Linked DNA regions of Homo sapiens. The protein of the gene in region 1 interacts with the protein of each later gene in a biochemical or structural test. Each region holds a gene or a part of one and is shown on either strand. Other genes may lie near its edges.

The links. The genes of interacting proteins can lie anywhere in the genome.
Region 2: the proteins of UBE2N (region 1) and RNF152 form a complex in vitro, tested with the Homo sapiens proteins (one study listed by BioGRID).

Annotation. Positions count from the first base shown.
Region 1 is NC_000012.12:93,410,811-93,414,464, reverse strand, and holds part of UBE2N (ubiquitin-conjugating enzyme E2 N), read left to right. Parts: intron 1-3,165; coding exon 3,166-3,412; intron 3,413-3,590; coding exon 3,591-3,654. UniProt on the Homo sapiens protein: The UBE2V1-UBE2N and UBE2V2-UBE2N heterodimers catalyze the synthesis of non-canonical 'Lys-63'-linked polyubiquitin chains. This type of polyubiquitination does not lead to protein degradation by the proteasome.
Region 2 is NC_000018.10:61,882,886-61,886,539, reverse strand, and holds part of RNF152 (E3 ubiquitin-protein ligase RNF152), read left to right. Parts: intron 1-3,654. UniProt on the Homo sapiens protein: E3 ubiquitin-protein ligase that acts as a negative regulator of mTORC1 signaling by mediating ubiquitination of RagA/RRAGA and RHEB.

The DNA.
Region 1 (3,654 bases):
TTTTTTTTTTTTTTTTGAGACGGAGCTTCGCTCTTTTGCCTAGGCTGGAGAGCAATGGCATGATCGGGGCTCACCGCAACCTCCACCTCCGGGGTTCAAGCGATTCTCCTGCCTCAGCCTCCCAAGTAGCTGGGATTACAGGCATGCGCCACCATGCCTAGCTAATTTTATATTTTTAGTAGAGGTGGGATTTCTCCATGTTGATCAGGCTGGTCTCGAACTCCTGACCTGAGCCGATCCACCCGCCTCGGCCTCCCAAAATGCTGGGATTACAGGTGTGAGCCACCATGCCCAGACTTTTTTTGAGATGGAGTCTCGCCCTGTCACCCAGGCTGGAGTGCAATGGCACGATCTCAGCTCACTGCAACCTCCGCCTCCTGGCTTCAAATGATTCTCCTGCCTCAGCCTCCCGAGTAGCTGGGATTACAGGCACGTGCCACCATGCCCGGCTGATTTTGTATTTTTAGTAGAGATGGGATTTCTCCATGTTGATCAGGCTGGTCTCGAACTCCTGACCTGAGGTGATCCACCCGCCTCGGCCTCCCAAAGTGCTGGGATTACAGGCGTGAGCCACCGCACCCGGCTCAGGACTATGACTTTTAAAGGGTCTGTGGATAATAGACCTGCGAGGGAGGTAGTGAGGTCAGAAGCAGGAAGAACAGGTTAGGAGGCTGTTGTAGTATGCCAGGTCAGAGCTGATGGTTGCTTGGATCAGAGGTGTAGCAGTGGAATGGTGAGAAACAGTCCAATCATGAGTAGAATTTGAAGTATAAAAAAAACCAATTTGCCAATCAGGCTAGATGTGTGTGGCATATGAAGGAAAAGGTGGATCATTTGGAAAGATGGGTTTGCCAGTAACTGATGTGGGGAAGACTTTATGGGAGGAGCAAAGGTTGGGGATAGGGAGGTCATGTTAAGTTTGGGATGCTTATTAGACATTCAAGAGTGTATATCAAGCAGGTAGTTATAGAGGCAAGAGGCACGATGAGGGGAGAGGTCTGGGCTAGATATGAATTAGGGGAGGCTTCAGCTTATAGAGTGTGTTTAGTATTTAAATTCATTGCATTACATGAGATCACTGTGGAAATGTATAAACAGAGAGGAAGCCCTAGAATAGAGCCCCAGTGCATTTCAGTGTTGCGATGTTGGGAGATAGAAGAAACCAACAAGGAAACTAAAGGAAGCTGCTGCCAGACAAGGAGGAAGAGAGCCATGAGAATGTTTATAGGAAGTTAGATAAAGCTTTGCAAAGAGGAAGGAGACCAGCTGGATAAGATGTCGCATTTAGGTAAGATAAAGATTAAGCACTGGACATTTGATTTAACCTTGTGGAAATCATTGGTGACCTTAACAAACAAGTTAGCGATAACTACAGCTTGATTGGAGGGTATGTTCAAGACAGAAGAGGAGGAGAGAAATTGGAGACAAGCAAAGTAGAGGTTCCTCTTCAAAGACTTTCCTCCCCATCTAATTAGGAATAAATAGTAACTTCTCTTAGAAGCAAAATTTATTCGAAGACCTGTGCAAACATTCTTAAATATTTGCTAGCCATAATAAAGAAATCAATATACTTTATGTTCTTAGCTCCCACAATTTAGCCTAAATATTTGCCCTGGCATGCTTATACTGGTCCAAGCAAGCATTAGGTCATAGCCTGTTCCTCTTCCTTATTTAAAAGTGTTTTTACCTTTCTCAGCATTCCACAAGTTACTTCCTCCTTCCTTTGTTCCCCTCTACCTTTACCTCTTTTAAAAAGTTCTAAGTTGCTAGCCAGTCAGGACAAATACAGAATGTGAGATCCCGTTCCAGCCAGTGGAAACCGGACACAGCAGTAGGGTGGACGCGTCAGGTTATAAATGACCCTGTCTCCTTTGTTCAGTATACTCTTGTGGCAAAACTCCTGGCGAGTGTACCCTTTCTGCAGGAAGTAAAAATGGCTTTACTAAATAAATTAAATTTATGTTCAAGTGCTATTTCTTTATGGTACCGAAGAACAAACATTTCAGAGATCAGTAAGATCTAGTGCTCAAGACCGATTGGCCCTAGCCAAGAGTACGTGACATTTCATCTATACAGGAGAAAAACCAGAGTGTATGGGTGCAGATGCAGGGAAATGTCCAAATGCTACAGTGGGAACTGATGGAAGTATCTAACTTGTCATGAAATAGGAAGCAGGACATCAGCCACAAGTGAGGATGGGGATGGAGATGCTGGAGGTTTGAAGAGAGAAGAGAAATAATAATAATACAATTATTTAGGGGAGAGGGAGAATGATGAAAAAGAGAACTAATGGTATGATTGTTGGGAGTATTAAGGGTTCCTCTGAAGTTAATTGTCAATTTTAGAGTAATCAGCATTGTTAAATATATTTCTTTAGTCCTGTTCAGGTACCTGGGCCTCTTCTTATCTCCTTTCTTTAGTCCGTTACATTTTTCAGAGGGGAGGTTTTCAGTGGGTTTAAAAACTAATTTTTGGCCGAGTGTGTTGGCCCATACCTGTAATCTCAGCACTTTGGGAAGCCAAGGCGAGCAAATCACTTGAGGCCAGGAGTTCAAGACCAGCCTGGCCAACAGGGTGATACCGTCTCTACTAAAAATACAAAAATTAGCTAGGTGTGGTGGCGCACACCTGTAATCCCAGCTACTCAGGAGGCCGAGTTGGGAGGATCACCTGGGCCCAGGGAGGTCGAGGCTGCAGTGAGCCAAGATCTTGCCACTGCACTCCAGCGTGAGTGACAAAGTGAGATCTTGTCTCAAAAACAAACAAACAAGCCAAAAAAAACCACCAAAAAAGCTAATTTTACTTTTTAAATAGCTTGGTTTTGGTTGAGTTTAGAGCAAGTTGCCTTACTTATGTAATCCTAATGTTACTTTATTTTACTTGAGTAAAAAATCAGTTTTATTAAGCTAATTTTATTAACATATTTGTAGACATTTGTAGCCAAAATGTATGATAACATCATTAGTATTCGCTTGCAGTTTCATTCAGCTGGTTGTAATTATTTAAATGGTATTTTTTTGAATTTTGCATTTTATAAGCTAAATCTGTTGGGAGATTGGAGCTGTTCTATTATGCGTAGTTCTAAGAGATGAACTTTCTAATTTTACTTTTGGTGTCTAGCAAAATGACATTTGTTTCACAAATGTGTTTGTTTTTCTGTCATAGGAAACCCAGCGTTTGCTGGCAGAACCAGTTCCTGGCATCAAAGCCGAACCAGATGAGAGCAACGCCCGTTATTTTCATGTGGTCATTGCTGGCCCTCAGGATTCCCCCTTTGAGGGAGGGACTTTTAAACTTGAACTATTCCTTCCAGAAGAATACCCAATGGCAGCCCCTAAAGTACGTTTCATGACCAAAATTTATCATCCTAATGTAGACAAGTTGGGAAGAATATGTTTAGATATTTTGAAAGGTAAGTGTTATCTTTATCAGCATATGCTATTATTAAGCTTTCTCCTTTTTCTCTTAAGCATTCCATGTTTAGAATGTAAACATTATACAAAGATCAGAGAGGTCTGTGGGAGGGAAGTGAAGCAGTTCTGGGCCTGTTTTTTTCATGCTTTATCATACTGGGCCTGTTGCCTTCATAGATAAGTGGTCCCCAGCACTGCAGATCCGCACAGTTCTGCTATCGATCCAGGCCTTGTTAAGTGC
Region 2 (3,654 bases), on another chromosome or scaffold:
ACAATGGGGGCAAAATCATGTAACAAAAAGCCTATTTTGTATTAAAGCATCAAATATCTCATGTAGTTTATTGAATACTGTATTGAAAGTGAAAAACAGATTGGTTGTATAGGCACTCAAAGAGATCTCAGTTCTCTTGCAAGCTCCTTAAAGATGACTGGATGAGGCTTTACACCATTGTGTGTTTGCCACCGTGTTTGTACACAGGAAGGGCTCAATAAACAAATCATTGGTGACTCTTTGACAACACAGAAAACGATTTTGACTTACAGTGATTTAAAGGAATTTTAGACCCTTTTAGCTTGAAGTCTTAAAGGAAGTTAAGAAGATAGAAACTTATTTTTAAGAGCTTCCCCTACTTGCATTAATAATGATTAAATGTTGAATCAAATTAGAATGACCAGGCTGCAGTACGTATACCAATGTTTGGGAGGTGAATGTTCTCAATGAGGGTCATGATTCTAACAAAATTAGTTGTTACTCAAAGCCTGTTTTTCAACTTCCATTTGCCTCCTACTTTGCCCACAAAAAAAAAAAAAAAAAAAAAAAAAAAAGAAAGCAAAAGAAAGCAAAAGAAAAAAAACCTCTACTTGGTGACATACAACAAGCAGCTTTAGGACTTTACAGCCTACCAGACCACCCCACAATCTAACGGAGCAGGCATTGATGCCTGGATTTGTGATGACTGGGTGTAGTTGCCCACCGCTGACTGCCCCACCTGCGTTTATAATTAAAGGCTTCAATACCTTTGTGATATACATCTGTTTTACCTCCCTTTTTTTGATTTTGGAATACTCATTCACATGATAGAAACTCTTCTTTGATACTCAAAATGCTTGATCATTATGAGAGTGTTATTATGAAAGAGGGAAATATGTTCAGCTGCTTGAAGAAAATGACCAGAAATACATTAATATTAAAATAACGCTCTCGGCTGGGCGTGGTGGCTCACGCCTGTAATTCCAGCACTTTGGGAGGCTGAGGCGGGTGGATTACTTGAGGTCAGGAGTTTGAGACCAGCCTGGCCAACATGGTGAAATCCCATCTCTACTAAAAATACAAAAATTATCCAAGCATGATGGTGTGCACCTGTAATCCCAGCTACTTGGGAGGCTGAGGCAGGAGAATTGCCTGAACCTGGGAGGCAGAAGTTGCAGTGAGTTGAGATCGCACCACTGCACTCCAGCCTGGGCAAAAGACCGAGGCTCTGTCTCAAACAAACAAACAAAACACTCTCAGTTTGAAAGGTAGTGAATAGGGCTGAGATAAGTGTCTCAGGAACCAAGTATTTGTTGTGATATTCTTTTGCAGTTGTGTTGTTCTGGGGTAGGTTTGCAAATTGCTTCCTCGAAGATTAATAATATGAGATTAGAAGTGGTTGGTGAGCACATGGACAAATTTGTGTACTTTGGAGAATTTACCCCTTTTGTTGCATGAGACATAAGATTACTGCCATTTTAAGTGAGTAATAGTTAATTCAACCATGCAGGTAAAGAGGTGTCCTTAACTGGGATAAATAGTCCATCCACTCCACTCCTTTACATTGGTACTTCAGAAACTGAAGGTACAGATCCATCCATTCACCTATGGTGGTGTGTAAAATAGCATTTGAAACACTGAGCATCAGGTATTTAAACCACTTATTAGGCAAACAATTGCATTCATTAAATGTATTTTGAATGGCCAGGCATGGTGACTCACGCCTGTAATCCCAGCACTTTGGGAGGCTGAGGCAGGCAGATCACCTGAAGTCAGGAGTTCAAGACCAGCCTGGCCAACATGGAGAAACCCCGTCTCTACTAAAAGATACAAATTAGGCAGGCATGGTGGTGGGCACCTGTAATCCTAGCTACTCTGGAGGCTGAGGCAGGAAGAATTGCTTGAACCTGAGAGGTGGAGGTTGCAGTGAGCTGAGATTGTGCCACTGCACTCCAGCCTGGGCGACAGAATGAGACTGTCTCAAACAAACAAACAAACAAAAGAATGTTGAATGCCTATGTTTTACCAGGCATAATTCTAAAAAAATCCCTGCCTTCTAGCTTCCTGTAGGTATTTAACTCATAATTAATTTGGTTTTCTGCTTTTTTTTTTTTTTGTAATGGCAAAGCTAAAAGGGTAGAGAATAAAAGAAATGTATCTGATATTCTCTCAATTCTTGATACCTTAGCATATATGCCTGCCTTACATGGCTCTAATTCAGGTAAGTCATTATGAACTGGAATTTTAAAAAGTAAGATGGGTTTGGGTTTAAATTTCACGTCTGCCACGTGACCTGAGTGCACAAGGTCTGACTGAGTTTGTTCTTCAGCTGCAAAATGGGGGAGAACCGACCTCATTGAGTTAGTGTAAGAACAGGAGAGACTTACATATAAAGTGCTTAGTGTGTTGCCCTCCACAATGTAAGACTAAATAAATGGCAGCTGTTGCTAACGTCCTTATATCCAGCATCTACCATCCACCAATCATTGGGCTCAGTTCTGGAAATATCGGGATGAATAGGCATGGTCTAACCTGAAGAAGCCCTTAAGCTAGCCAAGGAGGTGATGGCATCCAAGTAACTACAGCCTTCAGCGTTTACATGGGAGTTTCTTTTACCTGTCATTATTGTCAGAGTCTTTGGTTTGAAAGTCTGTAAAGCTTTCAGTGGCTCTGAGTTTAAAATGATAGGCCTTCTCAGGAGGAAGTGGGGAAAAAGCTGGAAGCAACTGGAGGAGAGGAGTCTGAGAAAGGGTTCTGAGCTAGCCCCCAGGCAACCTGAGTCTTCCTTAAAGGAGATGAGTCGCCTTTCTCCTGTGGCCTCACTCTTCCCAAGTGAAATGAAGGACATCCTCTTTCTCAGGGTCTGCTTTCTTGGGAGTAGAGTGACCCCCAGACTTGCCCATGACTAAGAGCATACCTGGGTCATGGAACTTTCCGTTTTAAAACAGTCCCAGAAAAATTGGGATGAGCTGGTCACCCTCCAGTCTTGTTCTGTGATTGTTGTTTGACATCCTGAAGCAGGCTTTGTAGAGATCTAACATTGTTAGTAGAGATACAACCATCCTACAAGAGAGGAGCAAGCGGGGCAGAATAAAATGGGAAAAAACATTGTAGCCTTGTCAACCCCTTTATTTAGGAATCTGCTTTTTGGAATGGGATATTTATTATTATTAAAAAGAAGAGAACTGTTTAATAAAGGCAAGGAATCTAGGCTATACAATATAAATATAAAGTTAATGAAACCTTTTAGAAATTCTTCTTAAAAAGGGGTAGCCGCTTGGGGCCCGGTACACAGTAGACACTCAGTAAAGACTTATTGAAATGGTGGCATCAATTTATTCTTCAGAAATATTTTTGAAAGCTGCATAGAGAAGTGCAAGAGGCCTCTGAGACATGCATTCCAGGACAGGTTGAGGGGCTGAACACTGTGGGCTTTGAACCAGTCTGCGCCTCACTCTTCTGGGCCCTTCCATCACTCATTTGAAAATGCATGCATCTAGATATGCTCTGGGTTTCCTGTGCTGGTATCTGAGTGTGTTTATGTATGAGCTGATGCTCTTCATGACTGTGTTTTTTTTCTTTCTGGTGGAACCGCATGATGCTAGCAGACAAGTTGCTTTGTCTTTTGTTTGAAGCTAGGATGCCTCTGGAACATTCCTATGTTGTATGCATGAT